Linked DNA regions of Homo sapiens. The gene in region 1 interacts genetically with each later gene. Each region holds a gene or a part of one and is shown on either strand. Other genes may lie near its edges.

Evidence for each region. A genetic interaction does not mean that the proteins touch.
Region 2: changes in GOLT1B (region 1) and FIP1L1 together harm fitness more than expected from each alone (negative genetic interaction), as found in Homo sapiens cells (one large-scale study listed by BioGRID).

What each region holds. Positions count from the first base shown.
Region 1 is NC_000012.12:21,511,342-21,515,288, forward strand, and holds part of GOLT1B (vesicle transport protein GOT1B), read left to right. Parts: intron 1-953; coding exon 954-1,035; intron 1,036-3,947. UniProt on the Homo sapiens protein: May be involved in fusion of ER-derived transport vesicles with the Golgi complex.
Region 2 is NC_000004.12:53,391,141-53,394,640, forward strand, and holds part of FIP1L1 (pre-mRNA 3'-end-processing factor FIP1), read left to right. Parts: intron 1-289; coding exon 290-358; intron 359-3,500.

The DNA of each region.
Region 1 (3,947 bases):
CCCCAACCCACCATCCTCCAAGAACATCCTTGTGTTCAGCTATCCGGAAGCTCCCTGAACACTGTCCTTTTGGGTTTTTATGGAGGCTTCATTACTAGGCATGATTGATTAAATTATTGGCCATGAGTGACCAGCTTCACAGCCCCCCTCCCCTTCGTGGAGGTTAGGAGGTAGGGCTCAGATTTCCAGCCCTCTAATCTTGCCTTGGTCTTTCTGGTGACCAGCCCCCATCCTGAAGCTGCCTAGGGGCTGCCAACCATTGATGATAACTCATTAGTATACAAAAAGACATCACCTTGTAGAGACTCTTAAGTATTTTAGGAGTTGTAAGCCAGAAAATGAGGTCAAAGACCAAATATATATTTCACAGTATCACTACATATTTTAAGACCCAGGAAAAGTTTAGTTTCTTTGCATTTTTAAAATAAACTATTTCATTCTCTTCCTATACTGAGGTAGCTTAACTGATCTACTGTCAATTTTAAACTGGTTAGAAGCTGTTTAACTTCTGTAGACTTGTATTTCTACCAAGAAAGAATGAGACATACTGTGAGGATCAGTATCTGGCAGGTAGTCTCTTAGTGTTAACTAAATGTTTTGACCCTTAGTACTTACTTAGTAAATGATAGCTATTATTATTTTCATGGTTCTACACATATGGTCTCAACAGCCCCTTTCTTTTTATCAGTTTCACCCCACACAACTCATAGTTGGAGAAATCTTCAGCAGTTGAGCTAACTCATAATCTGAGTTATATATAGCTAGGCCTCATGTACTTGTCACATTTTTACCAACAATCACAAAATTTTTAATTAAGTTTGTAGTTATTTCTAAGTTTGAAGACCCTCAATTATTCAGAATTTTAACAGGATACTTTCTTTTTCCTTGGTTAGCAATTATTTTGAAAATAGAAAATGTGTAAATATTAAGAACCTTTTTTTTCCCTCTCCCAGGGGCTTCTTTCCTGTCGTTGTTGGCTTTATTAGAAGAGTGCCAGTCCTTGGATCCCTCCTAAATTTACCTGGAATTAGATCAGTAAGTAATCATGTATATTTTAGGCCAACAAAATACGTATTTTGATGCTTTTTACTTCTAGAAATTTGAGTAATTGATACTTGGTTAATTGCTGAGTTTTGTATTATGATATAGTTACTTCACATAGATCATGAGTACCATGAAGACCAAAAAATAATTATTGCTAAACCTATAAAATGTGAAATTTTGTTTTACCGTATCCATTTCTGGATCCATATTCTCTATTTTTTAATGTTACTCAGATTTGATATGCTATGCTACCTTTCTCTTTGAGAGTTCAGGGCATTTTTTATTTAACTTTTATATAATCTCTAATTTTAGAAGCAATAATGTAAAAAGGAAACCATTATTTCCTACAAATATTTTGTTTCTCAGACTGTATCACCAATAGACTAGATTCAGACAATTAAATAAGGCCGGGTGTGGTGGCTCACACCCTGCACTTTGGGAGGCTGAGGTGGGTGAATTGCTTGAGCCTAGGAGTTCGAGACCAGCCTGGGCAACATGGTGAAACCCCATCTCTACCCCCGCAAATACAAAAATTAGCTGGGTGTGATGGTATGCCTATAGTCCCAGCTACTCGAGAGACTGAGGTGAGAGGATTGGCTTGGGCCTAGGGGGTCAAGGCTGCAGTGAGCCATGATTGTGCCACTGCACTTTAGCCTGGGTGGGTGACACAGTAAGACCCTGTCTCAAAAAAAAAAAAAAAAAAAAAAGAGTTGAATAAAGCACTATTATACTGGGATTCAGATGGTAAGAGTCTATTCCCAGCTCTGTTTACAGTTTGAACAAGCTTGTCAAATTTGTTTTCCAGTGTGTGCCTTGGTTTCCACCTTGATAAAATAAAGGGAATCAAATCAGACAAGAGTTAAAGAGAATGTTTTCAAAGTTAACAAATAGAGTTTCTTCCTTTTATTCAATATTCATTCAACAAATGTTTCGTACTAAACTGCTACCTTGAAGGTTGTAACATCTTTTGGTGGAGTCTTAGAAGGCCATTCAGAATTCAGCTTATTTTTTGCCACCTTGGGAAAAGCTTTCCTGACTCCCTGTGGCTGACTCGGGGTGTGCTTCTATAACATTCCTGTGCACAACTCTATCATAGCATTTACCTCTGTTTTTTTCTTTGTTTTTGTTTTTTCTTAGAGAGAGTCTCAAACTCTTGGGCTCAAGCAATGCCCCCACCTCAGCCTCCCAAAGTGCTGGGATTACAGGTGTGAGCCACCACACCCAGCCTTACCTCTCATTTAATTGTCAAAAAAAAAAGGCTTCAGGCCATGCATGGTGGTTCACTCCTGTAATTCCAGCACTTTGGGAGGCCAAGGTGGAAGGATTGCTTGAACCAGGAGATCAAGGCTGTGTTAAGCGATGCTCACACCGCCACACTATAGCCTGGGCAATAGGGCAAAACCTTGTCTCAAACAAAAAAGAAAAAAGAGAAAGGAAAGGAGAAAGGGAGGCACTTCCATGTAAAACTACAGTCCTTGAGGGCAGAGACAGGTTGTATTTTAGTCATTGTTCTATCCCCAGTGACCCAGCATAATATCTGCCGTATAATGGAAACTCAAAATATTTTCTGCTAAGCAAGTGAGTGAAGGATGGCATTTTGTTGACCTCAGGGAACTTGCTCAATTTCAAGACAAGACCAGATGACTGTCTCTTAGCCTACCTCCTCAGTTTCAAAACTAAACAAAATCCTTAATTTCTAAAAGAATCTAGGTGATCTAGAATTCAGCTGAGTTGGCTACAATCCTTTTGGCTCTAGGTCAGACCCATATCAGAAGTATTCATATCCTTCTTTGGATTGGTTTCATAGATCCAACTCTGTCCTAAATAACTAGGATAAACTAGCTTTATAGGAAAACTTAAAAGACTACAAGTTCCAGTTAGGTTCAGGGAAGTTAATCAACTTTCTAAAGTTGTTCACAGATTTTTATAGATGTTTCTAGAGAGAAAGTTCATAGCATTTTATTGAATGCTCAAAGAGCTAAAGAATGGCTTACCTATGGAAGAATAAGTACCACTATAAGCCTAATCCCATTTCCATCCCCAGGGTAATTTTAGGGTCAGAACCTTACAGCCAAGACAATCTAAATATTTCAAGTTACCTTTGGAGAGAGAATATTGTGCTTTCTCTCCACTTAAATTTACCTTAAAATTCTAATAAATCCATGAATTCTTTGAGAGCAACTTTTAGTTTCAGTGGCCAGCCACCTGTTTGTGATAATATAACAAAATGTTGGAATGTAGGCTTATAGGGGTATACTCTGATTTCATTTGCATTAATCTGCAAATTCATACAGTGGTCAGTGTTATTTATACCTAGAATGGCTTTTGAATGTACTGAAACTTCTAGTTACAGAGTTGTAATCATTATTTGTGCCCTTAATTTAAGGATTCTCAAGAATTTGCATAAATGGACACCCAATACAATAGAATATGTTTCTTATCGTTATTCATCATGATAAGTGCTTATGTAAACATGTGAATCGTGAAACAAAATAAATGATCAGATGATTACTAGAATTTGATAGTATAACCACCTGGGTTATATAACTTTTAATGTCTCTACCAATTATATACAATATCAGTCTTTACATCACCATCTGGAATGTTAAAAAAAAAAAAAAAGCCCAACTGCTTTATGTTTGGGGTGGAGTAACCAAAGTAAATAACCACTTACAGTAATGTGTGTTAAAATTTATATTCAATAATTATAAATTTATGCTTACATCATTAAATCTATCTTTAATGTCATTACCACTTTCAATCCAAAGTCCAGAATACACATTTAAAGTATTTTTAGTCAATAACTGTTGTTAACTATTGAACTTAATGGAGTTAAATCTGTTTGTCCAAAGACTACATAGGCCCAGAAGAGATCCACAGTAATGGTCAGTTGAAATATCTTA
Region 2 (3,500 bases), on another chromosome or scaffold:
TAATTAATAAATACTCCGGAATACCCTTGGCTTGTCTACCGTCCCACTTTTACTCCCCAAATAAATCGCTTCCCTATAAAAGTGGTTAAATGCTATATGATAGTTTAAAAATTCCATTTTGTTTACCATGTTTGTTTTTCCCTTCCCTCCCTTTTAGAGTTTCGTATTTAATGATTATCTGATGTTCTTACTTTCAAATCACAGACTAGCCACAGCTAGTTTGTCTTTATATGGCCTATTAATTAAATATTATGTGGTATCTTAATGGGGAATATGTTATTTAACTTAGGCCGAAGACTGTACTATGGAAGTTACACCAGGTGCAGAGATCCAAGATGGCAGATTCAATCTTTTTAAGGTGAATTTTAGTAAATTATCCTTGGTTGCTCTCATTTTTTGTTCTTGAGTCTGCTCCCATGCCACTACTCAAGGGACAAGATTAAAGTGGAAATAGCTACCTTTTTTCCAAACCTTCAGCTTCCTGGTGACTTACAAATTTGCTGATTGTTGTTTTATCTCCACTTTTGCAAGCATGTGAATTTATAGCCTATTATACTAACAAATGCCGAGTAAAACTATTGTTTGCTATATGTTGTGATTTCATTTTGAGTCGTAATACATGTTTGTAGGATAGAAAAGTTAGTGGCAACAGATTATGCTCTCATTGTAGATAATACTCTAATCTTTATCAACAGAATTGGAAACTTTTTTGTTCTCTTTAAAAAAATGGTAAGGAAGGTGGCATACTGTTTATCTCTATGACACTTATAACACTGATATCATTGGTGTAATGCCCTGATAGCTCAAGATATCTTCAAAAATCTTAGGCATTCTCTGAGAGGCTTTAAGAACTCAACATAATGAGATACTGCCATTGATTTTAAAAATTTGTTCTTAAAAGGAGTAGGTTTATGTGAGAGACTTTGAGGTTGATACTACAACTTGTATAACAAGTCTGATTTCTGGCTTCTCCATTCCATGGTATGATCACAGACCCAGTCCAAAGAATAATACTATATTGTCATAGTTCTTTTATGGAAAACTGATTGTGTACTCTTTTTTCTTTACCTTAATAGTTGACTCTTATATTGAATGACACTGGGATGAAGATTGGGAGTGGCTTTTAGATTGGGTTGTATACTCAGGGAACTTTAGTGGACTGGAAAGAGACCACTGCTCCCCTTTTGGGTTTGCAGCCCTGTCCACCAGAATACTGCCTTATGCAGTGTGTGTGCTATGTCTGCAGATACAACCACTCTACTGTACACAGTTCTATATAGATAATTTTATTTTAATTTACATCCTACTTTGCGTAAGTATTTGGTTCTTCTTTTGCAAATATTTTGAAAGTATGTGATGATGTCTGTTGTGTTTTAAAGGGTCATCAGTTTTTTCTGGGTTATATTGTCTATATAGGCATTGAATATATTAAACTTGACTGCAATGGGTAGAAAAGTTGTCTTAATGAACTAGTTCATTAGCAGCAGTGCATTTTATTTTCTTTTAATAGAAATGAGAACTGCCATCATAAACTGTTAGCTTCTGTATACTTCATTTTTTGTAGTAGACTTAAAAAGAGAATAAAAAGAAACTCCTAGGGGTCAGTCTCATTGAAGGTAGCCGTTATGAATGTGTATTTTATATACATACTGTGTACTGAAAAATTTATTTTGAAGTTTCTTTTGGCTATGTGAGAGGAGGTCATAGAGTATTCCATTCTGATTGGATTCTGAATGAAAGATTTTAATTCGATGGGTACAGTCTTCATGGTTTTCTTGCCTTGATAGTGTGTTTAAATACTAATATGTTTGGTAGAAATACTGATTTGGGAATAGGGTGTGTATTAAGAATATGTGTGGCAAACATTTTTTCTTTATGTATATTGTGGTCCGTAGGAAATGGTGGAAATAGGGCCATGATGAGCAGGACATTGATTTTAAACTAACCTGCAAACATTTGTGTAGCCAATAGGAAGCTGTTTGAAAGTTCCTGAGCAGTAGAATGAAGTGGCAGATCTGGTATTTAGAAAAGGAACTGGCAGCAGGATGGGCTGTAGAATGAAAGGGGTGTGAAACAGATAGGGAGCTGTTGCCATACTATGGGACTAAAATGAACTAGGGCCTGAACTCACTTATGAGGATGAATGGGCAAAGGAGTGGATTTAAGAATTAAAATTTATTTTCATATCTGCTGCAAATAGAATTTTTTCATCCTTAAGTGTGAGACAGCCCATCAGCCTCTTTAAGATAACTTTATTTACTTTTCATTAAACAATTTGCAAACCCAGTAACAAGTAGAATAGTACACATGAACCCTTAGGTGCTTATCATACAGCTTCAACACTTAACAGTGTTTTGACATTCTTGAGGTAACAGCCTTTTATGTACTTCAATATGAATAAAGTTTTTTTAAAAAGCAAAATAAAAGAAATTTAATAGGTATAAAAATAAAGCCACTCAATTGGGTACAAAAACAATTGTGTAATTATTTAATTAGAGTGAATGGCAAGAGAGAAGTGACTAGTGGGAATAGATAACATGTATGTATGAGAAAACGTTGACTACAACGTTTTCTTAAAATATTTTTTATTCATTTGTGCACATATGCATAGATTTTCCCCCCGGCCCCCCCCCCCCCCCCCGCCCCCGGCTGTGAATGTATGAGCTTTGTCACCAGTTTTCTGAAATTTTACAGTTATGTGTCTTGGTCTGTTTTCATCCATTGTACCAAGCATTCTCGATTTGGAAGCACATATCCTTCACTTATGGAACACTTTCTTCTTTTACTTTTTTCTCTGCTTTCTTTTCTATTCTAGATAATATTGGATATCTTCGAATGGTCTTCTAATTTTTTTTATTGTTTTTCTCTTTTTCATCTTTTCCATTATCTGGGAGAATTTTTTATTCTTATAATGTTATTGTACTTAGTTTTCATTTCTGTTGTTAATTTCCAAGAAAATTTTTCTTTATTATTTAGTTGTAGCATCTTATTATTCATGCCTACAGTAATGCAATATCTTTTTCCCTCCTCTCTCAAAGGATATTAATGATAGGCTGTTTTGTTTCTGTTAGATTTTTCTTTTCCTGCATAGTCTGTTTTCAACTTGATTATTTAAGTTAGTTATTTTTATCTTCTGACTTAGACTTTTCTGAAATGTTTGTTGATTGTTGGCCATTCACTCATGTAACGGTGGGCTGCTAAAATTGATTGGAAGCTCTGTACATCTGAATAGAACTTGCTTGACTGCAGGCTTCACTGGAGGGCTGTTTTTTCACATTCCCTGATGTCAGTATTTTTAGGTGTTTTTCTTTTTGTGGTAATCAGATTTTTTCAGATAAGGTATTCCAGTATTCTATCTAGAGGGTATATACTTGGCTGATGCAAATGTTCTGGTAGCTGGAGCTTTTAATTTCTGAATTTTTGAGGGTCCTGACATGATAATCATTGTCTTTGCTTTCTCATCGCTGACTTAGGATTCAGTTTTCTTTGGTCTGCTCAGT